3 separate regions of the Homo sapiens genome follow, and regions 2 and 3 are each linked to region 1. Evidence: fine-mapped expression QTL. A gene starts in region 1. Each other region holds a variant in brackets. All regions are shown on one strand. Distances are between the middles of the regions.

Evidence for each region. PIP is the estimated chance that this variant, and not a neighbour inherited with it, causes the effect. A credible set is the group of variants that fine-mapping cannot tell apart.
Region 2: its variant is the best candidate, but not a certain one, in a credible set for the expression of RNASET2 in transverse colon (GTEx, PIP 0.82).
Region 3: its variant is the best candidate, but not a certain one, in a credible set for the expression of RNASET2 in monocytes (Quach 2016, PIP 0.62).

Annotation. Positions count from the first base shown.
Region 1 is chr6:166,953,439-166,958,438 of GRCh38, reverse strand. RNASET2 (ribonuclease T2) reads left to right here and starts at 1,889. Exons shown (of 9, transcript NM_003730.6): 1 at 1,889-2,342. The coding sequence starts at 2,257. RefSeq lists silencers at 904-953, 1,224-1,323, 1,364-2,123.
Region 2 is chr6:167,081,859-167,092,561 of GRCh38, reverse strand. No RefSeq gene overlaps it. Among named protein-coding and RNA genes, the nearest start is that of CCR6, 36 kb to the left of the region's middle. RefSeq lists an enhancer at 122-181. The variant G/C (reference allele first, on the strand shown) is at 4,521.
Region 3 is chr6:167,710,117-167,720,819 of GRCh38, reverse strand. No RefSeq gene overlaps it. Among named protein-coding and RNA genes, the nearest start is that of LINC02487, 19 kb to the right of the region's middle. RefSeq lists enhancers at 7,277-7,845, 7,846-8,414. The variant C/T (reference allele first, on the strand shown) is at 6,300.

The sequences.
Region 1 (5,000 bases):
AAATCTTTAATGTTGTGAGCCCTTAAAAGGGACAGAAATTGTGCATTCGGGGAGCTCGGATTTTAAGGCAGTAGCTTGCCGATGCTCCCAGCTGAATAAAGCCCTTCCTTCTATAGCTCGGTGTCTGAGAGGTTTTGTCTGCCGCTCCTCCTGCCACAGGATTACAGTCGCGTGCCACCCCCGCCCAGCAAATTTTTGTATTTTTAGTAGGGACAAAAGGCCCCCAGGCCCCTGCAATAATGGTCCTCATAACACCACTCCTCCCCGAGTCCAGATTTGCTTTATATTTGGCAGTGGTCACAACAGCCCTCCTTGACAAGGGGCTGTTTAAACACACCGGACTGTGATTTAAAGGAAAATGAGGATTCTGGGAAGCACTTTTGTTTTAAGAAAATTATTTTTTTAGCTTAAAAGAAAAGAGAAAAAGAACTGTGGCGTGTGCCTATATTCTTGAGAGGAAGGAATGAAAGGAGCCGGAAAGAAACAAATAAGTCGTTAGGGAAAAGGAGAACGAGAATAACACCATGACCTGTAGGAGGTCCTGGAGGAGCTAAGGAGGTGTCAGCCATTTTCCCCCCCCATCTGTTCCACAGGTGGCATTTTATTGAGCACCGACTGTCCCCCATCCACTGTGCTCAGTGGCAGGGACTCAAGGTGGGCAAAATAGACATGGGCCTTGCCTTGCAGTCTAGTGGGAAAAACAGATTAATCATTTAAATATTTTGTTTCAAAGAATGGTAATGCATGCAGGCAAGGTCCAGGCCTGTGGGAGAGCAGGCTACAGGCCCACCTGCTATTTAGACAGTTACCAGTGGCAGAGGACCCCGAGGAAGGCGCAGTTTACTCGACGTGTAAATAGGAATAGCCTTAACTAGCTGTGGGTGTGCGGACAGGGAAGGGAAAGAGGAGAAACATCTGCAGAGACAATGCCGGGTGCACAGCCCGTGGGCGGGGCCGCGGGTGCAGGGGAACCCGTGCCTCTGAAGGGCTGGGAAGGCCAGGGTGTTGGGGGAGGAGACCGGGCCTATGGGACTGGCCCTGGCTACGCCAAGGTGGGGCTGACATGAAGTCCCCTTCATCCGTGGGGGGTGGCCCGTCCCTCTGGGAGGGGATCCCTCACAAGATGACTTCCCAGGTCGCGCCCCGAGGCGGCTCTTTGCTGCCCCCACAGAGATGACTTCCGGGCTCCTGGGGCCCGCGGGGAGGGGCAGGTGAGGCCCAGGGCTGGGTGAGGGCCAGGCCCTTCTAGGAATGTTGGTGCTCCCAGCACCTAGCACCGGGAGACTGGAGAGGTTTCCAGGAGAGTGACCCGAGTAGGTCCCCTCCTAATTCTGGAGCCGTCCCTCGGGCTGCGCAGTGGAGCGCCGAGGTGGCGGGAGGCTGCGGGGAGCCTGGGCGGCCAAGCACCATCTGCAGTCAGGAGCTCCCGGGCAGCTTGCAGGGCGCAGTTTTTGAAAGCGGGTGCTGCGTGCGGACCGCGGGCCTGCAGGGTGCGCGGGTCGGGCTGGGGGCTGTCCCTGGAGAGTAGAGTGGCCCTGGGGCCCGCACGCCCACTTGCTGGCGGGGGATGGCGCAGACACGGGCGGTCCCCCCGAGGGCGGTCCTCACGGGTGGTCTAGGTTAGCTCGGACCCGGGAGTGTGGGAGTGGCGCAGAGCTGCGGGAAAAGGCGCGGGGCGCCTGCGTGGCGAAGGAACACAGCCGCCTGACACGCCCTCAAGGCCCGCGGAGCTGCTCCTGCCTCGGCCTCTCTGAGCCAACCACGGGGCGGGGCGTGAACGCCGGGCGGGGACGTGCCGTTCTGGGGGGCGTGTCCACCGGCGGGGGCGTGCCGTCCTGGGGGCGTGGCTCTCTGCTCCGGTGCAGGCCCGCAGGGCGCCCTGGGCTGGGAGCAACGCGACTGACCGTGGTCGTGGGCGGACGGCGGCTGCAGCGTGGAGGAGCTGGGGTCGCTGTGGGTCGCGAAGCAGAGCCCGGGACGTGCGCGCTTGGTGCACGATCCTGAAGGGGAGCTCCGAGGGGCCCGGGTCGCCAGGGCTGCTGCGGCCATTCCCGGAGCCCGGCGCGGGGCCCGCGAGATACTGGTTTAGGCCGTCCCAGGGCTCCGGGCGCACCCGGTGGCCGCTGCTGCAGCGGAGGGAGCGCGGCGGCGCGGGGGCTCGGAGACAGCGTTTCTCCCGGAAGTCTTCCTCGGGCAGCAGGTGGGAAGTGGGAGCCGGAGCGGCAGCTGGCAGCGTTCTCTCCGCAGGTCGGCACCATGCGCCCTGCAGCCCTGCGCGGGGCCCTGCTGGGCTGCCTCTGCCTGGCGTTGCTTTGCCTGGGCGGTGCGGACAAGCGCCTGCGGTGAGTTACCTTGCGAGGTAAAGTGGGGAGCGTGGGAGCCGGGCCCTAGAGCTTTCCACTGGGTGAAGGCTGCAGCTCTCGGGGTCGGCGGTCGCTGAGCCCCGGGCAGCGACTGGGGAGGGCGGGGGGAGCCGAGCACGCTCCGGGGTGACCCCTGGGAAGAAGTTGGGAAGTTGAGCACGCCTCGGGGTGACCCCTGGAGGGAGTGGGTTGGGGGGAGCCCTTAGCACACTCAGAAGTGACCTCTGGGAAGGAGTGCGATGAGGGGAGTCCTGAGCACGCCCCGGGGTGACCTCTGGGAAGGAGTGGGTTGGGGGGAGCCCTGGGCACGCTCTGGGGTGACTCCTGGGAAGAAGTGGGTTGGGGAGCCCTGAACACTCCCCGGGGTGACCCCTGGGAAGGAGTAGGGGGTAGGGTGAGGTCCTGGGTACACTCCAGCCTGGAGCTGGACTGGAAACTCATCCCACAGACTGCTCCCAGCCTAGGACGCGACAAAGCAGGTGGCAGGCTTGGTGGAGCACTGTTCCTGCACTCGAAGTTCTCTCAGAGGTCGAAGAAGTCGTGGAGGGGACACTTAATTTCAGCTTTCACTGCGGCGGGTGGTGAAACGACGGTTCTTCCTCTTTTTGAGTATCCTGTTCTGAATCCCTTCCCTTGGCTCGCCCTCCGCGTGTGTGTGTGTGTGCGCGTGTGTGTGTGCGCGTGTGTGTGTGTGCGTGTGCGTTTGTGTGTGCGTGTGTGTGTGCGTGCGTGTGCGTGTGCGTGCGTGCGTGTGTGTGCGTGTGTGTCGTGTGTGCGCGTCTGTGCGTGTGTGTCGTGTGTGCGCGTGTGTGTGTGTGCGTGTGTGCGTGTGTGTGCGTGCGTGCGTGTGTGCGCGTGTGTGCGTGCGTGTGTGCGTGCGTGTGTGCGTGTGTGTGTGTGGCAGCCGCCCAAATTAATTAGGGGTAAACAGGCGGTGCTGCAAAGAACTCCAACTTTAATTCTGTGGAAGATACCAATATTTGAATACCATATTATTTCTTTCTATTTGGGTAATGATCGGGTTAATAGGATTTCTTACTTACATAGTAGGTGTGGAAAAGGTGGGTTTTACTTATTTATTTTTTTTTAGACAGTCTTACTCTGTCACTCAGGCTGGAGTACAGTGGCGTGACCTCAGCTCACTGCAACCTCCACCTCCCGGGTTCAAGCGATTCTCCTGCCTCAGCCTCTGAGTAGGTGGGATTACAGATGCACACCACCACGCCTGGCTAATTTTTGTATTTTTAATAGCCAGGCTGGTCTCGAACTTCTGACCTCAGGTGATCCGCCCGCCTCGGCCTCCCAAAGTGCTGGGATTACAGGCGTGAGCCACTGCACCCGGCCAGGGTTTTACTTTTTAAACACCTTAGGTATATATTTTTAATCATGTACATTAAAATGTAGCATTATATTTCAGTGTTCCGGAAAGTGTATTTTCTGAAAAAGAGCTACATTTATGTCCTTATTTATTGGCCATGAGGTTCAGAGCCTCTCACTGGGGAAGTCTGTGGCATGCTGGCCCTTGCTGGCTGAGTGGAAACTGCTAGTTCACACCCAGGTGTGGGACCTTTGAGCTCTCTATGCCCCAGTTTCCTCATCTGTAAAGTAGAAATAGTAACAGTCAGCCTCACAGAGTTGGCTTCAGGAGAAATCAGTTAAGGTACAGAATGTAACTTGGAATGATGTCTGGCTGGAAGTAAACATTAGCATAAAACAGGCTGTCATATGTGGATCCCCCACCCCAGCCCATAATTCATGCAACTGATATGATCGGACAAACTTGAGCAGGCAAGATTTGCGAGAACATGGTTGATTCAGACCACGAGGGCTTCATAGGTCAGCGGGCATTTTCCCAAGTTCTAACTGGTTTTGAGACCTTGGTGATTTTTCTTTCTTCTTTGACTTTCTTTAGCTTCTCCATTACTTTCTCCGTGAATAGGGGAGGGGGGCATCTGTGTGGGAGGGGGTCTCCTGCAGTCACATCACTCTGCCTGGTTTTAGATGGAGAGTTTGTTACAAACGTCTGAGTCTTGGTAGTTTTGTTGTAAGCATATTGATAGTCTCATCTTCCTGGGTGTTGCTAAGCTTTCCAGCCTCAGGTTCCGACTATGTAAAATAAGGTTTTTCACCCAAGGGTAAAAAATGCTTTACCAGCTCCAATTCTCACCCTGCAGCTCATCCTTTTTTTTTTTTTTTGAGACAGGGTCTGGCTGTGTAGCCCAGGTTGGAGTGCAGTGATGTGATCTGGGCTCACTGCATCTTCCACCTCCTGGGCTTAAGCTATCCTCTTGCCTCAGCGCCTTCCAAGTAGCTGGGACTACAGGTTCATGCCACCACACCTGGCTAATTTTTGTAGAGACAGGGTTTCACCATGTTGCCCAGGCTGGTCTTGAACTCCTGAGCTCAAGCAATCCTCCTGCCTCTGCCTCCCAAAGTGCTGGGATTATAGGTGTGAGCCACCACGCTTGAACCCTTTTTTCCTTTTATACTGAGAGCTTGCATAATTAGTTCCAATGTACAACTAAGTTTTCATACCATCTTAACTGTAAATTCTATACAAATTCAACAGGACTCAATTATTTACAAAAGCTAATGTGTGACAACTTGATCTTCTTACTTGGAATCTTCCCTTCTAAA
Region 2 (10,703 bases), 130 kb before region 1:
CAAATAATATAAAATAATATTCCAAATAATATTCTGCGTGAACATGAATTTTGGGAAGACACTATCCAGTTAATAATCATATTAACCGACTCCACTCCTACACGCTGTCTTCAGCCTAGAGCCTCCTGTGGAACTCCAGACGCCGACCCCCACTCAGAGTATTCAGAAGAGTCTCAGATCTGAAGCCAAACTCAATTTCACTCCCCAGACCTGTTCCTCCGACATGTGCTATCATCAAAGCAACAGTCAGTCCTTCCAACTGCTCAGGCCCCAAACCTTGCAGTCGTGCTTGGATTCTTTCTCCACATCAAATACGTCAGCAAAATCAGCAAATGTTCCTGGCCATCTCCAGGATGTATTAATAGTGTATATCCCACATTCATAGCCAGTCATTCCCACTCCTTCCTGCCCCAAACTTTTGCCCTCCAGAGAAGGCAAAGCTTTAGCATGATTCAAATCATGTCTGGATTCTGTTCTGAGCTCCCCAGGGCACCCCACATGCGCCAGGATAATGCCCTGTGTCCTCCCATGACTTAGAGGCCCCGTGGAGCCCTCGCCCTTGCCCTGCTCTCCTCCCGCTGCCCTGTGTCCTTCCCAGCTCTGTTGTTTATGCCAGTTGCCCCGGCAATCACACTGTGTCTGGGATCTGTCCAGCCGGTCCCTGCTCTAGGGCCCTGGTCCTTGCTGCTTCTCTCCCAGGTTGCTCTCCAGACAACCACACTGTCGGCCCCTTGGGTGTCTCAGTTCAAGCTTCCCTGACTACCCAGCTTAAAAGAGCTTCCCGATCCCAACTCCCTTCCTGGCTCTGATGCTGCTTCCTTTTCTCCTGGGCACTGGTCCCCTCCTGGCACGTTGTCGCTTGGATGTAAGGCCCCATAGAGAAGGCGCTTAGCCTGCATTCCTGCCTACCCAGGGTCTAGCGCAGACAGCAGGCGCTCAAGAAAGAGTTGCTGAGTGAGCGTGTGAATGAAGACTTGATGACTGACATACAAAATTAAAGAATCTGGGGTTTTTTAAAAGCTTATCTCATTTTTTGCAACAATCTTTAGACCTGATCTTCGATCAGCCTTTAGCTGATGTATAGATAGGGTGAGGTTGCCACAATCTGGGGTAGATCAGCTTTGTGACTTGTCATCTAAAAAGGGGAAGAGGTTTAACTTGAAAGAGAAAAAAAAAACAGTAGACGACCTTTATGTGGAACAGTTACGCGAAGCCTCATCGGTGGCCAGGCAACTTCCTTTCCAACTTCTTCTTACTCGGGACCCTCTGCCCATGTTTACATCTTGCCAAAGACCATGGAAACTGGTAAACATCTTGCCAAATAAAGCTGTTTAGACTGACTGAACATGCAAAGACGCCCTCTGTCCCTTGGACAACTACAGGTCAGGGAAATGAATGGAAGTCACATGAGACTCTACTCTTTCAAATTCCCTTTTAAAGTGGAAATTCCCTCGCTTGGTTATAGTATTAAAGGGAACAAGCCTAAGAAGTGGAATTACAGGAAAAATGGGCACGTGAGGATATGAGAGTATAGATGGTGTACGCTCATAGATGGTACAGAGTAGATGGGCATCATTTGGATAGAGAAACACAAAACACTCTTTGCTGAACTTGAAGATGATATTGCTGGTTAAGAGCACAGACTTGGGAATTATATCAGCATTTGAATCTCGACTCTTGACCCTACTACTTCCTAATGGGGTGATGTGTGTAAAGTTGTTAATCTTTCTGAGCCCTACCTGCCTCATGTGTGGTATATAGAGATGCAGGCACCTCAAAGGCCTGAGTCTGACACACAGTGGATGGCGAAAATTGGAGAGCTGGAGGAGGAGAGGCACATAGGTCATGCCTAAGTCATGAGAACATACAAACAACAAAATCAACAATAGAAATCTAGCTTCACTTGATTGATCCAGCTTGTCGGAAGATTGCTAAGAGATTCCACTCAACAACTAAACCGCCGTTCCACACTATGATTGCTGACTTGAGGCTGGTAACACCTTTTGGGAACGCTGTCTTGGGAACGTTCACAGGAAAATTGCTCCTTTGGGTACAAGGTTTTGAGATACAATCTCTGGGTCAATGAGTACTTTACATACAGGAACCCCAAAATGGAGGAAGTAGGCTATGGAGGAACAAGAAAAGAAGGGAAAAACAAAGCAGCCACAGAGGCGAGGTGGCTGCTCCCCTTCCTGCCACCTGGAGGAAGTTGGAGGCTAGTTCTGGAGACATCACAGTTTCTATTACTTTGGTTACTTGGCAGAGCCTAAAAACTTCCTCTTGTGTGGAAGAAAGAAAATCCTTTCTGTGTTGCTCCCTGGAGGGAAGAAAACCAGGCTGACTCTTGCTTCCATTTGAGGAGCTCAAAGGAAGCCATTTCCCACGATGGTCCCCCAGGCACAATCCTGCATGGAGCCCAGCCCTGGCCCACAGCTCCTTGACTACAATCCCCTTGACCCATTCATCACCCTTGCCACTGGCCCTATTCTTTGTGACTTGGCTCAACACTGGTGACTTCTTCTGCTGCCCTATTCACCTCCAGTCTGAGACTCAGGAGCATGTGGCCACCTGCTGCCACAGAGATGCCACACACATGGCCCAACGCCAACGGGGTCGCTTAAAATACATTGCTGATCTGTGGCCTATGTCTGGAGGAAAGGGGCCGGTGGGGTCCTACAGTGACCCGAGAGGCTCCTATTCTGAACCACAGAGAGCACCACACCAAGAGGCTGGTGTGATATGCTGCTGGGCCCACAGTTTTCATGGGCCCCATGTGCCTGGAGTGAAAGGTCTTTAGATCAATCAAAGAGATCCAGTGTCTGGGGAGTTCTTGTTTCTTCACACTGACCACTTCAATAACGCAAGGACGGGGATTTTCTTGGCTTTGACCAAGGCTGCAGTCTCTCCAGAGCTGAAAACTCAAGTTACTTCTGCCTGGTTCTGGCCTCCCCTGACTCGGCTCTGCCATTAACCAGTAAAACTAGTATCTCCTGTTCTAGAGGGAGGTCGTCATCCTGGTAGAGGGCCATGTGTAAGGATCTGCACCCCTCTGTTTAATTCTCCAGGAAGGTCACTGCAGCTGAGGTCAACTTCCTCCCCAGAGAAGCAAAACCTGTTGGCTGCAGAGGCTGCTTGTTAAACAGAGAGGCGTTACCTCCAGGAGATGTGTGACATCAGACTTTTCAGGGATAGTGCCCAGAAAGCTCAGAAACTTTGCTTAACAAACTCTTCCAGGTGATTCTGATATTAGCTAAATCTGAAAACCACAGAATTAAATGATGTTAGTTTTTTTCCCTCGAAATTTAAGTTTCATACTGACCCTTGAACTACTTATACTGAAAACATTTCAAACATTGATAGTTCATTGATACTAGCAACTGATCTGAAATTATTACTTTGCCTAAAAAAAACTGACAATTTCAGAATATTATCATTCCTTAGTAGTTTGCATTTATGACATTAGATAGTTCCAACTCCTTCCTCCACTTTGTGCAAATGATTTCATGTATCTTATTTCTACATCTGTCATAAACCCTGTTTACTATTTTTAATTTAGTTAACAATTTTTTTTTTTTTTTTGAGACAGGGTCTCACTCTGTTGCTCAGGCTGGAGTGCAGTGGTGCAGTCATGCCTGACTGCAACCTCACCCTCCTGGGCTCAACCTCCTTGCCTCAGCCTCCTGAGTAGCTGGGACTACAGGCATACACCACCATGCCCAGCTAATTTTTGTATTATTTGTAGAGACAGGGTTTCACCATGTTGCCCAGACTTGTCTCAAACTCCTAAACCCAAGCCATCTGCCCATCTCAGGCTCCCAAAGTGCTGGGATTACAGGCATGAGCCACTGCACCTGGCCACCATAGTTGACAGTCTTTTAAAGAATCAGCCATGAGAAAATGTTTTTAATATCCACTTTTACTATTTCTGGTGCTCACTTCTCTGTGTAACCCCAAATTTTTATCTGGTATAATTTTCCTATAGCCTAAAGAACTACCTTTAACATTTATTGTAGCACAAGTCTCTCAGCAGTGAGTTATCTTAGTTTTTCAGGGTCTAAAAAGCTTTTATTTTTGCCTTTAATTTAAAACAATATTTTAATGGATCTGTAATAGAATAATAGAATTCTGGATTAATTGTTTCAGTACTTTAAGATGTCAGTTCATTAACATCCAGCTTACATGTCTGACAAGAAATCTATTACAATTATCTTTCTTCTTGGGTATGTAATGTCCCCCACAACTCCCAAATGCATTCTACATTTTCTCCTTATCTTTGGTTTTAAAAAGTTTGATTTTATGTGTCTAGGTGGGGTTTTTTTTTTTTTTGGTATGGAGATTTTTTATTTGTTTTTGTATTTATACTGTTGGGATTCCCTGAGCTTCTTGGACCTGAGGTTTGCTGTCTTGCATTATATTTGCAAATTATCTCTTTAAATATTTCTTCTGTTTTATTCCTTGCTGTTTGTTTGCTTGTTCTGGGACTCCAACTGCATGTACATTAGATGATCTCACAGCTCTTG[G/C]AGGCCTTGTTAGACAGAGTTTTTCCCTCTATTTTATGTTTTTTTTTTTGTTGTTTTTTTTTTTTTTTTTTTTCTGAGACAAGAGTGTCACTCTGTCGCCAAGGCTAGAGTGTAGTGGTGTAATCTTGGCTCACTGCAACCTCCGCTTCCTGGGTTCAAGCAATTCTCCTGCCTCAGCCTCCCGAGTAGCTGGGACTGCAGGCATATGCCCCCACACCAGGCTAATTTTTGTATTTTTAGTAGAGATGGGGTTTCACTGTGTTGTCCAGGCGGGTCTTGAACTCCTGACCTTGTGATCCACCTGTCTTGGCCTCCTGAAGTGCTGGGATTACAGGCATAAGCCACTGTGCCCAGCCCATTTTATGTTATTTGTGTGTCATTTTATATGATTCCTGTTGACCTATCTTCAAGTTCCTTAATCTTTCTTCAGCTGAGACTAGTTCACTGATAAGCTTTCTGAAGGAATTCTTTATGTCTTATATATTTTTTGTAGCATTCCCACATGTCTTTTATACTCTCTATCTCTCTGCTGAAATTTCCCATCTGTTCATGTATGCCATATGCCTTTTCCTCTAGATCATTTAACAAATTCTTCAGGGCTTTTTTGTATTGTTTTGTTTTTGTTTTTGTTTTGTTTTGAGATGGAGTTTTTGTTCTTGTCGCTCAGGCTGGAGTGCAATGGTGCAATCTTGGCTCACTGCAACCTCTGCCTTCTGGGTTCAAGCAATTCTCCTGCCTCAACCTCCCTAGTAGCTGGGACTATAGGCACCCAGCACCACGCCTGGCTAATTTTTGTCTTTTTAGTAGAGATGGGGTTTCACCATGTTGGCCAGACTGGTCTCGAGCTCCTGACCTTAGGTGATCTGCCCACTTTGACCTCCCAAAGTGCTGAGATTACAAGTGTGAGCCACCATGCACAGCCTCATCAGAGTTATTTTAAAGCCCCTGTCTTAGAGTTCCCACATCTGGGCCATCTTGAATTCTGGTTCTATTGATTGATTGCTTTATAAGTTGACTATGAGTTGTTTTTGTTTTTGTTTTATTTTGTTTTCTTAACTGTCATTTTTTGATTTACTGCTGGAAATCATGTGTAAAAGTAGACACTGTTTATGCCCTTAAAAAATAGTTTCATGTCAGGGTGAGGCATCGCCTCACCCGGGAAGCACAAGGGGTCAGGGAATTCTCTCTCCTAGCCAAGGAAAGGGGTGACAGACGGCACCTGGAAAATCGGGTCACTCCCACCCTAATACTGCACTTTTCCGACAGTCTTAGCAAACGGCACACCAGGAGATTATATCCTGTGCCTGGCTCAGAGAATCCCATGCCCACGGAGCCTCACTCATTGCTAGCACAGCAGTCTGAGATCAAACTGCAAGTTGGCAGCGAGGCTGGGGGAGGGGTGCCCGCCATTGCCAAGGCTTGAGTAGGTAAACAAAGTGGCCTGGAAGCTCGAACTGGGTGGAGCCCACCGCAGCTCAAGGAGGCCTGCCTGCCTCTATAGACTCCACCTCTAGGGGCAGGGCATAGCCAAACAAAAGGCAGCAGAAACCTCTGCAGACTTGAATGTCCCTGTCTGACAGCTTTGAAGAGAGTAGTGGTTCTCCCAGCATGCAGCTGGAGATCTGAGAACGGACAGACTGCTTCCTCAAGTGTGTCCCTGACCCCCCAAGTAGCCTGACTGGGAGGTACCCCCCAGTAGGGGCAGACTGACATCTCACACGGCCAGGTACTCCTCTGAGACAAAACTTCCAGAGGAATGATCAGGCAGCAACATTTGCTGTTCACCAATATCCGCTGTTCTGCAGCCTCTGCTGCTGATACCCAGGCAAACAGGGTCTGGAGTAGACCTCTGGCAAACTCCAACAGACCTGTAGCTGAGGGTCCTGACTGTTAGAAGGAAAACTAACAAACAGAACATCCACACCAAAACCCCATCTGTACGTCACCATCATCAAAGACCAAAGGTAGATAAAACCACAAAGATGGGGAAAAAACAGAGCAGAAAAACTGAAAATTCTAAAAATCAGAATGCCTCTCCTCCTCCAAAGGAATGCAGCTCCTCACCAGCAACGGAACAAAGCTGGACGGAGAATGACTTTGATGAGTTGAGAGAAGGAGACTTCAGACAATCAAACTACTCCAAGCTAAAGGAGGAAGTTCGAACCCATGGCAAAGAAGTTAAAAACCTTGAAAAAAGATTAGACGAATGGCTAACTAGAATAACCAGTGCAGAGAAATCCTTAAAGGACCCGATGGAGCTGAAAACCACAGCATGAGAACTACGTGACAAATGCACAAGCCTCAGTAGCCAATTCCATCAACTGGAAGAAAGGGTATCAGTGATGGAAGATCAAATGAATGAAATGAAGTGAGAAAGGAAGTTTAGAGAAAAAAGAATAAAAAGAAATGAACAAAGCCTCCAAGAAATATGGGACTACGTGAAAAGACCTAATCTACGTCTGATTGGTGTACCTGAAAGTGACGGGGAGAATAGAACCAAGTTGGAAAACACTTGCAGGATATTATCCAGGAGAACTTCCCCAATCTAGCAAGGCAGGCCAACATTCAAGTTCAGGAAATACAGAGAACACCACCAAGATACTCCTCGAGAAGAGCAACTCCAAGACACGTAATTGTCAGATTCACCAAAGTTGAAATGAAGGAAAAAATGTTAAGGGCAGCCAGAGAGAAAGGTTGGGTTACCCACAAAGGGAAGCCCATCAGACTAACAGCGGATCTCTTGGCAGAAACTCTACAAGCCAGAGGAGAGTGGGGGCCAATATTCAACATTCTTAAAGAAAAGAATTTTCAACCTAGAATTTCATATCCAGCCACACTAAGCTTCATAAGTGAAGGAGAAATAAAATCCTTTACAGACAAGCAAATGCTGAGAGATTTTGTCACCACCAGGCCTGCCTTACAAGAGCTCCTGAAGGAAGCACTAAACATGGAAAGGAACAACCGGTACCAGCCACTGCAAAAACATGCCAAATTGTAAAGACCATCGATGCTAGGAAGAAACTGCATCAACTAACGAGCAAAATAACCAGCTAACATCATAATGACAGGATCAAATTCACACATAACAATATTAACCTTAAATGTAAATGGGCTAAATGCTCCAATTAAAAGACACAGACTGGCAAATTGGATAAAGAGTCAAGACCCATCAGTGTGCTGTATTCAGGAAACCCATCTCATGTGCAGAGACACACATAGGCTCAAAATAAAGGGATGGAGGAAGATCTACCAAGCAAATGGAAAACAAAAAAAGGCAGGGGTTGCAATCCTAGTCTCTGATAAAACAGACTTTAAACCAACAAAGATCAAAAGAGACAAAGAAGGCCATTACATAATGGTAAAGGGATCAATTCAACAAGAAGAGCTAACTATCCTAAATACATATGCACCCAATACAAGAGCACACAGATTCATAAAGCAAGTCCTTAGAGACCTACAAAGAGACTTAGACTCCCACACAATAATGGGAGATTTTAACACCCTACTGTCAACATTAGACAGATCAATGAGACAGAAAGTTAAAAAGGATATCCAGGAAATGAACTCAGCTCTGCACCAAGCGGACCTAATAGACATCTACAGAACTCTCCACCCCAAATCAACAGAATATACATTCTTCTCAGCACCACACCACACCTATTCCAAAATTGACCACATAGTTGGAAGTAAAGCACTCCTCAGCGAATGTAAAAGAACAGAAATTATAACAAACTGTCTCTCAGACCACAGTGCAATCAAACTAGAACTCAGGATTAAGAAACTCACTCAAAACTGCTCGACTACATGGAAACTGAACAACCTGCTCCTGAATGACTACTGGGTACATAACGAAATGAAGGCAGAAATAAAGATGTTCTTTGAAACCAATGAGAACAAAGACATAACATACCAGAATCTCTGGGACACATTTAAAGCAGTGTGTAGAGGGAAATTTATAGCACTAAATGCCCACAAGAGAAAGCAGGAAAGATCTAAAATTGACACCCTAACATCACAATTAAAAGAACTAGAGAAGCAAGAGCAAACACATTCAAAAGCTAGCAGACGGCAAGAAATAACTAAGATCACAGCAGAACTGAAGGAAATAGAGACACAAAAAAACCCTTAAAAAAAAATCAAGGAATCCAGGAGCTGGTTTTTTGAAGAGATCAACAAAATTGATAGACTGCTAGCAAGACTAATAAGGAAGAAAAGAGAGAAGAATCAAATAGACGCAATAAAAAAATGATAAAGGGGATATCGCCACCAATCCCATAGAAATACAAACTACCATCAGAGAATACTATAAACACCTCTACGCAAATAAACTAGAAAATCTGGAAGAAATGGATAAATTCCTTGACACATACACCCTCCCAAGACTAAACCAGGAAGAAGTTGAATCTCTGAATAGATCAATAACAGGCTCTGAAATTGAGGCAATAATTAATAGCTTACCAATCAAAAAAAGTCAAGGACCAGATGGATTCACAGCCGAATTCTACCAGAGGTATAAGGAGGAGCTGGTACCATTCCTTCTGAAACTATTCCAATCAATAGAAAAAGAGGGATTCCTCCCTAACTAATTTTATGAGGCCACCATCATCCTGATACCAAAGCCCAGCAGAGACACAATAAAAAAAGAGAAGTTTAGACCAATATCCCTGACGAACATCGATGCAAAAATCCTCAATAAAATTCTGGCAAACCAAATCCAACAGCACATCAAAAAGCTTATCCACAATGATCAAGTGGGCTTCATCCCTGGGATGCAAGGCTGGCTCAGCATACGAAAATCAATAAACGTAATCCATCATATAAATAGAACCAACGACAAAAACCACATGATTTCTCAATAGATGCAGAAAAGGTTTCCGACAAAATTCAACAGCCCTTCATGCTAAAAACTCTCAACAAATTAGGTATTGATGGGACGTATCTCAAAATAATAAGAGCTATCTATGACAAACCCACAGCCAATATCATACTGAATGGGCAAAAACTGGAAGCATTCCCTTTGAAAACTGGCACAAGACAGGGATGACCTCTCTCACCACTCCTATTCAACATAGTGTTGGAAGTTCTGGCCAGGGCAATTAGGCAGGAGAAGGAAATAAAGGGTATTCACTTAGGAAAAAAGGAAGTCAAATTGTCCCTGTTTGCAGATGACATGATTGTATATCTAGAAAACCCCATCGTCTCAGCCCAAAATCTCCTTAAGCTGATAAGCAACTTCAGCAGAGTCTCAGGTTACAAAATCAATGTGCAAAAATCACAAGCATTCTTATACACCAATAACAGACAAACAGAGAGCCAAATCATGAGTGAACTCCCATTCACAATTGCTTCAAAGAGAATAAAATACCTAGGAATCCAACTTACAAGGCACGTGAAGGACCTCTTCAAGGAGAACTACAAACCGCTGCTCAACAAAATAAAAGAGGATACAAACAAATGGAAGAACATTCCATGCTCATGGGTAGGAAGAATCAATATCGTGAAAATGGCCATATTGCCCAAGGTAATTTATAGATTCAATGCCATTCCCATCAAGCTACCAATGACTTTCTTCACAGAATTGGAAAAAACTACTTTAAAGTTCATATGGAACCAAAAAAGAGCCTGCATCGCCAAGTCAATCCTAAGCCAAAAGAACGCAGCTGGAGGCATCATGCTACCTGACTTCAAACTATACTACAAGGCTACAGTAACCAAAACAGCATGGTACTGGTACCAAAACAGAGATATAGACCAATGGAACAGAACAGAGCTCTCAAAAATAATGCCGCATATCTACAACCATCTGATCTTTGACAAACCTGACAAAAACAAGAAATGGGTAAAGGATTCCCTATTTAATAAATGCTGCTGGGAAAACTGGCTAGCCATATGTAGAAAGCTGAAACTGGATCCCATCCTTACACCTTACACAAAAATTAATTCAAGATGGATTAAAGACTTAAATGCTAGACCTAAAACCATAAAAACCCTAGAAGAAAACCTAGGCAATACCATTCAGGACATAGGCATGGGCAAAGACTTCATGTCTAAAACACCAAAAGCAATGGCAACAAAAGACAAAATTGATAAATGGGATCTAATTAAACTAAAGAGCTTCTGCACAGCAAAAGAAACTACCATCAGAGTGAACAGGCAACCTACAGAATGGGAGAAAATTTTTGC
Region 3 (10,703 bases), 760 kb before region 1:
CAACTGAAGGACAAAATCCCATCCATGTAAAACCCACGAAGCAGCTCTGTGCTGGAGGCCAGGGTCCCCGGACCGGGCCTCTTACTGTCGAAAGATTTTCTGCCATTTCAGTTATTTTCCTTTGTGTTAGAACAGAATTCTTCTGGGTCAGCAATAACATTCCTTTCCCTCATTTTGTAAATCTGCCCACAAGCCCCGGGTGCGGTCCCAGGAGGAAAGAGAGTGGGAGAGGGAAGTCCACGGGCCTGGGGCGTCCGTGTCAGCGGTCCCAGAGGACGCGGAGAAAGAATTCGAACCTCTGCTCCAAAGGCTATTACTAAATTTTAAGCTTGGCAGAAAATTGACCGTTCTGGAAATTAATATGACCATTAATAATGATACTAATTTAAAAAACGTGTTGTAGGGTCAGAGACAAACCATGCGGGGAAGTGCAGAGCCCAGAACTGTAGGCAACTGGGCCTTGGTGCATTCTTTAGGGTGTGTCAAAGTTTAATTAAAAAGAGCAGATATTTTGTTAAGCCATTGCTACAGGCGAACAGTGGAGACCTGCAGAGACAGCAGATAGAGTCTCGCCTTCCAGCACTGGCAGCGCTGTGTGGGGAGCAGGCGCGGCCCCGGGAGGCGACCAGGACGGGAGCCACAGGTGGGGACAGGGGGCCTGGGGCAGCTCCCGCGGGCTCCTGCAGAGGCAGAGGCTGGAGAGCAGGGACAGCGGGAGGAGTGGTCGCGGAACCGCTGACCCCTCCTCTCCCTGCGCCTCTGGTCTGGGCAGTGCTGGAGAACGGTGAGAGAAACCCAGCTGGTTCCACGCGGCGTGCATCCCCAGGAAGGCGGCCAGACGGCAGTCAGGCCTCCGTGGAACTCGAAACTCTCAGCTCATCCTTCAGAAAGAGGAGAAAGGCAGCGACTAAACGAGACAAATCCAACTGCTGCCTTCAGCGACGGGGTCTGCCAGGCGACAGGCAGGAAGGACGGAGATGCAAGTCCCCAGTTCTTTTTTTAAAATTTTGATTTAAGTTCTGGGATACACGTGCAGAACGTGCAGGTTTGTTACCTAGGTATACGTGTGCCATGGTGGTTTGCTGCACTGATCAACTTATCTAGGTTTTAAGCCCTATATGCATTAGGTATTTGTCCTAATGCTCTCCCTCCTCTTGCCCACCACCCCAACAGGTCCTGGTGTGTGATCTTCCCCTCCCTGTGTCCACATGTTCTCATTGTTCAACTCCCACTTATGCGTGAGAACATGTGGCGTTTGGTTTTCTGTTCCTGTGTTAGTTTGCTGAGGGTGATGGCTTCCAGCTTCATCCATGTCCCTGCCAAGGACATGAACTCATTCTTTTTTATGACTGCATAGTATTCCATGTGGTCTTAGGTTCTTGTTCCTCCGTGAGGTGACCACTGCCCGGGGATGGCAAGGCAAGGCGTGGGAGTTAATTAGACTTTCCGTCTGTTTTAGATTGAACATAAAATAGCAAAATAAAAATAATCTTCATGTTCCCACCCTCTAATGAAATGTGCACCCACCAAACCTCTTCCTCAGAGTAAAACTAGTTCCTTAGGGACATGGACACCGTGAATTCCAGGAGGCCCCTGCGGTGGTGTGGACAGGCCAGCATGCTCAGGGCTGTGAAACTCAGCTCTGCTGTTTTCTTGCCGAGTGACCCTGGGTCTGTGACTTGACATCTCTGAGCCTCAGCTTCCTCATCTCTACCACGCGGATATAAGACCCTCATCACAGGGCTGGTGAGTGGATCACAAGACATGCTTTCCCTCCTCTTAGCAAAACAGCTGTGACCAAGAGGACAGATAAAGGAAGGGGAATCATGGTGTCAGTCCTGCCAGCACTTAGGGAGTAGCTCATTGTATTAGTCCGTTTTCACTCTGCTGATAAAGACATACCCGACACTGGGCAATTTACAAAAGAAAGAGGTTTAATGGACTTACAGTTCCACGTGTCTGGAGAAGCCTCACAATCATGGCGGAAGGCAAGGAGGAGCAAGTCCTGTCTTACATGGAGGGCAGCAGGCAAAGAGAGAATGAGGAAGAGGCAAAAACAGAAACTCCTGATAAAACCATCAGATCTTGAGAGACTTATTCACTACCACGAGAACAGTATGTGGGAAACTGCCCCCATGATTCAACTGTCTCCCACTGGGTCCCTCCCACAACATGAGGGAATCATGGGGGTATAATTCAAGAGGAGATTTGGGTGAGGACACAGCCAAACCATGTCACCTATCATGTGCTCGGCCCTGAGGTAGGCTTGGATAAATGATGTTTATTTTCATGCATGGAGTTTATGAGCCTATTGTAGGGTGGGAATACTCCATCATGCAGTTAGTTAATAAATAATAAATATACAAATAATTCCAGAGTAAATTATTTAGTGCAAAGTATAAATTCTGTAGGAGCCTAGGGCAAGGGAAATAGATGAGGAGTTAGGGTAACGGTGATCATGCTAAAAATAGCTAACCTTTTAATACGGCTGTTAAGCTAGATCACTCAGGATTAGGTTCAGCTGCAGGTAGCAGAAATCCCACCTAAGAGAGTCTTCAGCTGGATAAATGATATTTCTTTTACATAGAAGAAACCCAGAGGTAGGCAGTCTGGGGTTGGCTTGTTGCCCTTCATCTCACTCCCATTGCTTGTTATTAGGGATCCAGATTTTTCTGTCTTTCTGCTCCATAGTCCTTAATGTGTAGCTTCTAGTCTCCAAATTTCCTCATGGTTGCAAAATGGCGCTGCAGCTGTAGCCATCACATCTGCATTCCAACTAGCTGAATCTGTCCCCTTCAAGTGGCTTTCCTGGGAGCCCCACCCAACAACTTTCTATTGCTAGGGAGCCAGGAAATTTAGTTTCTTAAGAAGGGCACCTTACTGTTTCTAACATATAGGAGTTTTGTGATTAAAAGAGAAGAATAGCTATTGGATACACGGTAGAGAGCACCTGACTGTGAGGTACAGAGCTTCTCCCCTTGTTCCATCTGCCTTGTCTCCTCTTTCTCTCCACTCCACCCTCTTTCCACAGCCCTGGACTCAGCTTAGACTGGCCCAGTGCGAGACGCCTTGGCTCCGTGTGTGTTATGTGCTTCCACATGGCAGCCCGTTTACCTGGACAGTCTGTTTGTCTGCCTAGCTAGACTGCTTCATTTGCCCTGGTGTATCCAGAGCTGAGTGTAGGGCCTGGCACATAGCAAGGTTTCCACAGGACCCTGGGGGATGAAGGTTCAGTGCCGCGTGCGTTGCCTGTTCTATGCAGGTGCCCTCGGGCGCAAGCACCCAGGTGAGGTGGAGGCAGAAGGAAGAGTTGTCCAGTGTCCAGGTCAGACCTCTGTGGATAATCATAATTACTTTACTGAAGTCCTTTTGGTTGCTGTGTTTAGTTTTGTTCTAAACACTGTAATTTAGCCAGGCCACCTCTTCACTGATCAGTATTCCATTGGTGTAATTATTGTCTTTTGCTTAACAAAAGGACATTTTTGACTAAGAGGTATCTTCCCAGACTATGTCAATTTGCTGGAGAGGACAAGGTCTGTGTTAAAAAAAGAAGGTGGAGAGGGAGGAGCAGCCCAGCTGTGAACCACGGTGATGAGTGAATTGATCCTGGAGGAGATGAGCCCAGGTGGGCACGAGGAGCAGTGGAGCGGGGCTGCTGCTGGAGGACTTCCTTCTCTTCTCATTAGGAAATAACTATTGCTTAGGAGAATGTTATCTGTTTGTTGGCAGGGGACAGGGGTGGATCAAGAAAACAGAAAGTACAAAAAGTCAAAAATGTATTCCCAGTCTCATCATCTGGAAATCACTACTTTTTTTTTTAACTCTTATTTTAGGTTCAGGGGTACATGTGCTGGTCTGTTATGTAGGTGAACTTGTCATGGGGGTTTGTGGTGTAGATTATTTCATCACCCCGGTACTAAGCCTAGTACCCAATAGTTATTTTCTCTGCTCCTCTCCCTCCTCCCACCCTCCACTCTCTGATGGGCCCCAGTCTCTGTTGTTCCCCTTGTTGTGTCCATGAGTGCTCATCTTTTAGCTCCCACTTCTAAGTGAGAACATGTGGCGTTTGGTTTTCTGTTCCTGCGTTAATTTGCCAAGGATAATGGCTTCTGGCTCCATCCATGTTCCTACAAAAGACATGATCTTGCTCTTTACTCTGGCTGTGTAGTGTTCCATGGTGTATACATACCACATCTTCAGAGTCCAATCTGTCATTGATGGACATTTAGGTTGACTCCATATCTTTGCTACTGTGAATGGTGCTGGTATGAACACAGGTGCACATGTGTCTTTATGGCAGAATGATTTATATTCCTTTGGGTATATATCCAGTAATGGTATTGCTGGGTTGAACGGTAGTTCTGTTTTTAGCTCTGGAGGAATCACCACACTTCTTGCAGATCACTACGGTTAATGTTTCATAAACATCATTTTAGAGCTTTTGCCATGTGTATATTCTCCCAGAAGAGTAGATAGAAATAATTTTACACAAATGAAATACATCATGTATTCGATTTAACATTACTTGTATTTAACTAAAGAAAATGAATCTCAAACTGAACATGAAGGAAATGGATAAGTGAAGATGTGTGTTTTCTTTATAAGTGATATTAGTGATTTTTCCTAAAAATCTAAAATTCAAAAAGTTAAGCTACAAAGTTGGGGTTAGGGTCAACCTTTTTTTTTTTTTTAAATCTAATGTTATAACTTTAAAAAGATCTGTTGATTTCTTCCCCTTGAATTTGCACAATTCATATCTCCTACCCACTTTTCTTCCTCCCCCATGACTTTTGTTCGTAGACTATTTTTACAGACTTGCATTTTATATCATCTACATTTTGTTCCGTGCCACAATTACCATGTATTTCATGTGAGACCCTTCCATATTCAAATGCATTCAGCATTCTTTCCTTCCAGCTTCTTCATGCCTGAATTTTAACATTTTTATGATTCAACTGCTGTATGGCTAAATTTTTGTCATCAAGTATTTTTTTTTTCGAGAAGGGCTCCTGGGTGCTATAGTGATGGAATTCTTCTGTGGTTGAGAATACACCTTAGCAGGTTCTATGTATGGCTGAGCCTTGAACAACAGGGTTTTGAGCTGTGCGGATCCACTTATATGTGGATTTTCTTCCCCCTCTGCCACCCTCCTCTTCCTCCTCCTCCACAGCCTCCCCAGCGTGAAGACGACGCGGATGAAGAGCTCATGACGATCCATCCCCAATTCATGAATAGTAAATGTCTTTTCTCTTTCTCACTATTTTCTTAATAACGTTTTCTTTCCTCTAGCTCACTTTATTATAAGAACACAGTATATGATATAAATCACGTATAAAATAGGTATTAATCAACTGTGTATGTTATCAACAAGGCTTTTGCTCAACAGTAGGCTATGAGGAGTTACGTTTTTGAGGAGTCAAAAGTTAAGCTGATTTTTTTTTTATTGCATGGGGCGTCGACACTGCTACCCCACGAGCTGTTCAAGGGTCCGCCGTCACTCTTGGGTGTCTTTTCCCTCAGGAGGAGCCGGTACCTGACCTGGAATGCCTGGTGTGAGCGTAGCTGGGCAGGGGACACCTCTGCCTCGTAGGAGGCTTTTCCCCAGCCTGGACACTCACATGACATTTTCTCACCCTGGAGACTCAGTGACCCCACTCGGGCGTGTCTCGGTGAGGAATGGTTGTGAGCCGGTTGTTCCTAGAACAGGGGAAAAATGTCCCTTTAATCTGCAGATGCAGACTTGGCTTGTTGAGGAACATCTTTCCAATTTTATCTATATATTCTTTTCTGTTCTATTTATTTCTGTTTCAGATATACCGGTTGTCCCTGTATTGGGCTCATCTTCATATTTAATTAGGTTGAATCATATGAAATTGTTATTTTTGACCACTTTTTAAAACCTATAAAAATTCAGAGAAAGCCGCTCAAATATTCTTGTGGTTCCAATTAAAATTCCTTTCTTTTCCCTTGTCCTTTCTTTCATTGCATTATCTGTGATTATCAATAAGCCCTTTCTGCATGTACCTAATCAGGATTTAGCTGTGTTTATCCGGCTCCTTGTGGTTTCTGATATAGGTATTATTTATCTAATGAAGAATTAGTAGCCTCAATTTGTTTCTGTATCTCTTCAATTTTTCTTTGCATTTTATTCCAGTTGTCTCATTTCATTTTTGAATTCTTTTCTCAGCGACTTCTTACTCTCTTTATTTTTAGCTAACTTTCACATTATTTATTATTGGAAGCTTTTTAAAATTTCTTGCAATATGCTGCAACAGTAGGTTTAACCTTTGTGTTTTGCA[C/T]GCAATTTCTCTCTCTCTTTTTTTTTCTTCTCAGCTGTACTATGTCTAGATACTCCTGTGCCTGTCTGCCTGCCTTTCTCTCTTCTAGCCGCCCTCCCTCCCTTCCTGCTTTCCTTCCTTTTCAGCTCACTCAACGTGGGAAGCCCTGTGAATCTTCTCTCTGCCTAAACAGAATGTGAAACTTCCCTGGGACTGTTGGGTTCTGTATCCTCCCTGCTCTGGTGGGGCTTGAAGGTACAGCTGGAAGCTCTCATCTTTGTGCAATTTTGTTAGTAGTCTGGGACGGTGGAGGAACTCTTGCAAGCTCAGGGCACAGCCCGTTCTGCAGGCGATGCCCTTGGGTGTCCGCTTATTGCCCCGATTTAGGAAGGAGTTTGTTCTCTGCCAGATACAAGGACCCCTGTGTGGGCTCCTCCCATCCCCATGGAAGCAGAGAAAGAGGGGGATGGGGCAGGGGGGAGTTGCCCCTGGATGTCCTGAGGATCCCTGTGCCTGAAGGGGTCTTGTTCTCTTTCCAATTCCTTCCCTCCATCCTAATGTGTTTGCTGCTATAGAATATTCCGCCCTGGACAACTGCGGTCAGTCGGTCCTCTCGTTTTCCTCTCCAGCTCCTCCTCCTGCTCATCTCTGGGGTTCCTCGGAGGTAAGAGGTAGGTGAGGGCTTTAACCCCAGAGACTCTCCTTCAACTGCTGACCAGTTGTTTCTTTTCGAATTTAGGTTTATTCGTGAAAAAGCTCAGAATGCTATCCGCTTACCCTCTTCCCCAAGGTTCTATTTCTCAGGGACAGGAGGCTGTTGTTGATTCCCATACTTTTTCCTCCTGGACTTCACTTTTAAAAGATGATGACATGAAGCTAGCCTTTCTTTTTTGGATGTTACTGTAGTGTTTTAAAACTGGTTTTCACTGGTTGCTTATTGTTCAGTTTTATTAGGTTTTGCAGGATGTTTCTGTGGTCTGGCTTTATTTGGAGAAGGACCCTTAGTGTGTTTTAAATATAATGTAAAATGTAAAGGTCATTTCCACAATGCTCAATTCCTAGGCTTCCTCCCAGGTGTCTTCCACCAGCCTCTGATACACAGGTCTCTGCCCCTGGAGACGCCTGCATGGCCTCAGACAGACCCAGCCCTCTCTACCTCTCACTGTGCTCCCCCGAGTCCCTGCAGAATATGCTGGGAATTCATGGTCCTGAGATGGGAGGGGCTGGCTGCAATAGCCTCGCTCTGTTCCAGCCCTTCCAAAACCAGGATGGCCTTGCCTGCTTTACCCCAGTGAGTCCTGGAACGCCAAGGTATAAAACCCAGGGCGGGATGCTTTCTGGGGTCCTCAGCCACAGTGCAAATAGAGCACATTCAGGTGAGACCTCTCTGCCCCAGCCACTTCCCTGAGCCTGGGGGACTGCCTGGCTATGAGCCCTGGGCTCCTGCGGTTCCTCGATGCCTATATATAAGTAGTCACCCGCTTCACGTAGCTTGTGTGGGAGGGGTCCTGGCTCCCTGGACTTGGGTAAGTAGTAAGAGTGCAGCCCAGGACGCCGTGGGCTGAAGTGGAGGCCAGTGCCTGGCAAGCCTGCTTCCAACCTCCTGCCTGTGTGGCTTCCTGTGCCCCACCCTCCAGGGCTCTTGCTGCCTCCCCACCAGCGTGCCCACGTCTGCCTCCTCTGCTGCCCCTTTGGGTCCTTCGACCTCTCGCAGTGGCCGTGGTCCAGGCGTCAGTCCTTGGGGCCTTGTTTTTCCCTTCTTGGTGGTCTTGTCCAGGCTGTGGGTTTAAACCCCTTCATGCGTTGATGACCTTGATGCCTCTCTCTTCCGGACCTATCTTCCGAACCCCATCTCAGCCTCCCTGATGGGAGGGCTCACAGGTGTTCCCTGTCCACCCAGCCCGTGCCACCTGCCATCCACATCCTAGCCCTGGCAGTGCACCTGGCCTGGCAGAATCAGGCCGGCTCTGAGGCAAGGAGAGCACTGAGTGCTGGGGGTGGGTGAGGCGGGGCGGGCAGAAGCCAGCAGGCAGCGGGTCCATGGGAGAGGGACGGCTGTGCTGGCACCCACTGAGGACCCTCACCCAGCCCGCGCCACCTGCAGCCTCCCTATCCCAGCCTGTCCAGGGGAGGAACTTCCAACCCAGGAGCCACCCTGGCCCCTTTCCTTCTCCACGCCCACATCCAGGCTGTCAGAAAATTCTGTCTCCGCTTTCACAGTTCAGACCCAGAGCCCGCTGCTGCTCCAACTTCCCCACCAGTCCCAGCCACCCTCATTCCCCCTCCATTATGCAACGGGCTTCTATTTCTCAGTCTCCTTGCTTAACCTCTGCTTATTCTCAGCAAGGGGATACCCACAATGGCTTACTCTCTCTTTCAGAATAACAGGCAGTTCCCCAGGCCCTATCTCTCCATTCTCACCTCCCTCTGCCTAGAAGGGTCCTCCTGGAAGCACATCTCTGCTCAGCGCCCCTGCTCAGCTGCGGCTTCTGGTGAGGCCTACCCTGGCCACTTCATTTCAAATTGCAGCTCTCCCTGGCACCTCCGCCAGCTTTACTGTCACTGTTCACACCCTACGCTGTGTTCCTATTTCCTGCTCCTTATCTGTTTCTCTTGTTGGAGTGCAAATTCCACGAAGGAAGGGTTTTGATTCTCTTCAGTTCACAACTGTGCCCAGCACCTAGTAGACAACACACATGCAGTGAACAAACACATCAGTGCAAGTTCAGTAAGTGAATTCTCATGGAAACAAGCTGTGGATTTAGAAGCAAAAGGCTTGGGGTCCCATCCTGAGTCCACCACTCGTGCAAACGCTCCATGATTCGGTCTCTTACCCCTCAGGTGGGGATGCTACCAGCCTGAATGATGGTGGCAATGTGCCTGCCATGGTTACCTAAATGAAAATCCACTTCCAGATTATGTCTAGTGCATAAATTAAGTAGCTACCTGGGCTCAGAAAATAGCCAGAAGTGGAAAGCTTTATAAATAGTGGGTTACAGGAAAAATAAAGAACTTTGTTCAGTCACCTCAGCTGCAGTCAACCCCCAAGGAGGGAAAGAGGAGCCCCACCGCCTCCCGCATGTCATTCAGCTCCTCTCCCAGCCAGCTTCGTCTCCACATGCACACAGGCTCAGGGTAATTACACGGCTTGTTTGAGAAGCCAGTCTGGAGCCAAATTCTTCTTTTTCCCTCAAATGCGCGGCCTGTTCTCCTACGCCGCAGCAACCCTCAACTGCAAAACATACAAATGAAATATTCAGATCATTACTTCTGATATCATTACTCTTCACTTCCTCACTTTTTTGTGAACTTCTATTAATAGACCATACTTAGGTGACCCAGAGGGACAGGCCATCACTTACTAGAATTTGAAGTAATTATTTAAAAACATTGATTGGACTTAGCTTTCTACCCTTTATGGAGAAATTCTAATGACCTGACTTCATTGTGCACATTATCCAATTTGCACATCAACACGTGACATTTCTGTTTAATTCTGGTTTTGTCACATTGATTTTTTCCCCTAGTATATAATAATGCCATCATATTGAGAATTATAAAAGTTCAGAACGATCCCTAACTCCCCTGAAACCTGTCATTATACTTACATTTCCAACTAACTTTCTAGAATTCTATGTTTCTTCCTTTGTTTTATGAAAATTCCAGGTAGTGAGGCTTCATTTCCTTGGCAAGGTCTCTTTGGGAACTTTTCCTTGAAACACAGAGAAGGAGCTGGCTCTCAGCATCACTAAGACGGCTCTGCTGGGCTCTCTCCGGCGGGTGCGGGGTCTGCAGGCACACATGCTATGGCGCAGGCTGTGTGACTGCAAAACCCACCAGGAAAGACCCAGCAAGGGAACTGGGGTTGCCATCCGTGTGTGAAAGGGAGAAGGGATGGAAACTTGTTTGCGTCTGTCCCCTGGTGAGCACTTGCTTCCCGATGACTCTCATTATTCATAAAAAGCGTGCATCACAAAGATAACCCCAGCTGCATGGAAGGTGCCAAGATGTGATGGAAATTAGGAGGAGGTAATTGCTCGCCCGTGCTCTCTCTGTGATAAGCTTCCATGAGAGAAGACAGAATATTTAAGAGCCTGAAGTCACCATGTGATGCCTGTACAACGAGGCCAGCATGGCTTGCTGGAGCCCCAGAGAACGTCTTTGATGATGACATTGCCCTCAATGCTCCTGGTTCTCTTTTTCCTTTTCTTTTTAAAAATAACTCCTCCCGTCTCCCCAGGGCCTTCACTAGTGCGTCTGGGAGGTTATTTGGAGGTGGGAGAGCTTTGGATCAGGATGATGAATATCGAGGACTTAGCTCTGTGTCGGGCACCCAGCGGCACCCTGGACTCAAGAGCCGCCCCCCAGATGGACACTTTTCAGGAGCCGGGGCTGCCCCCAGGGCACCTGCCCACCCGTTCCCAT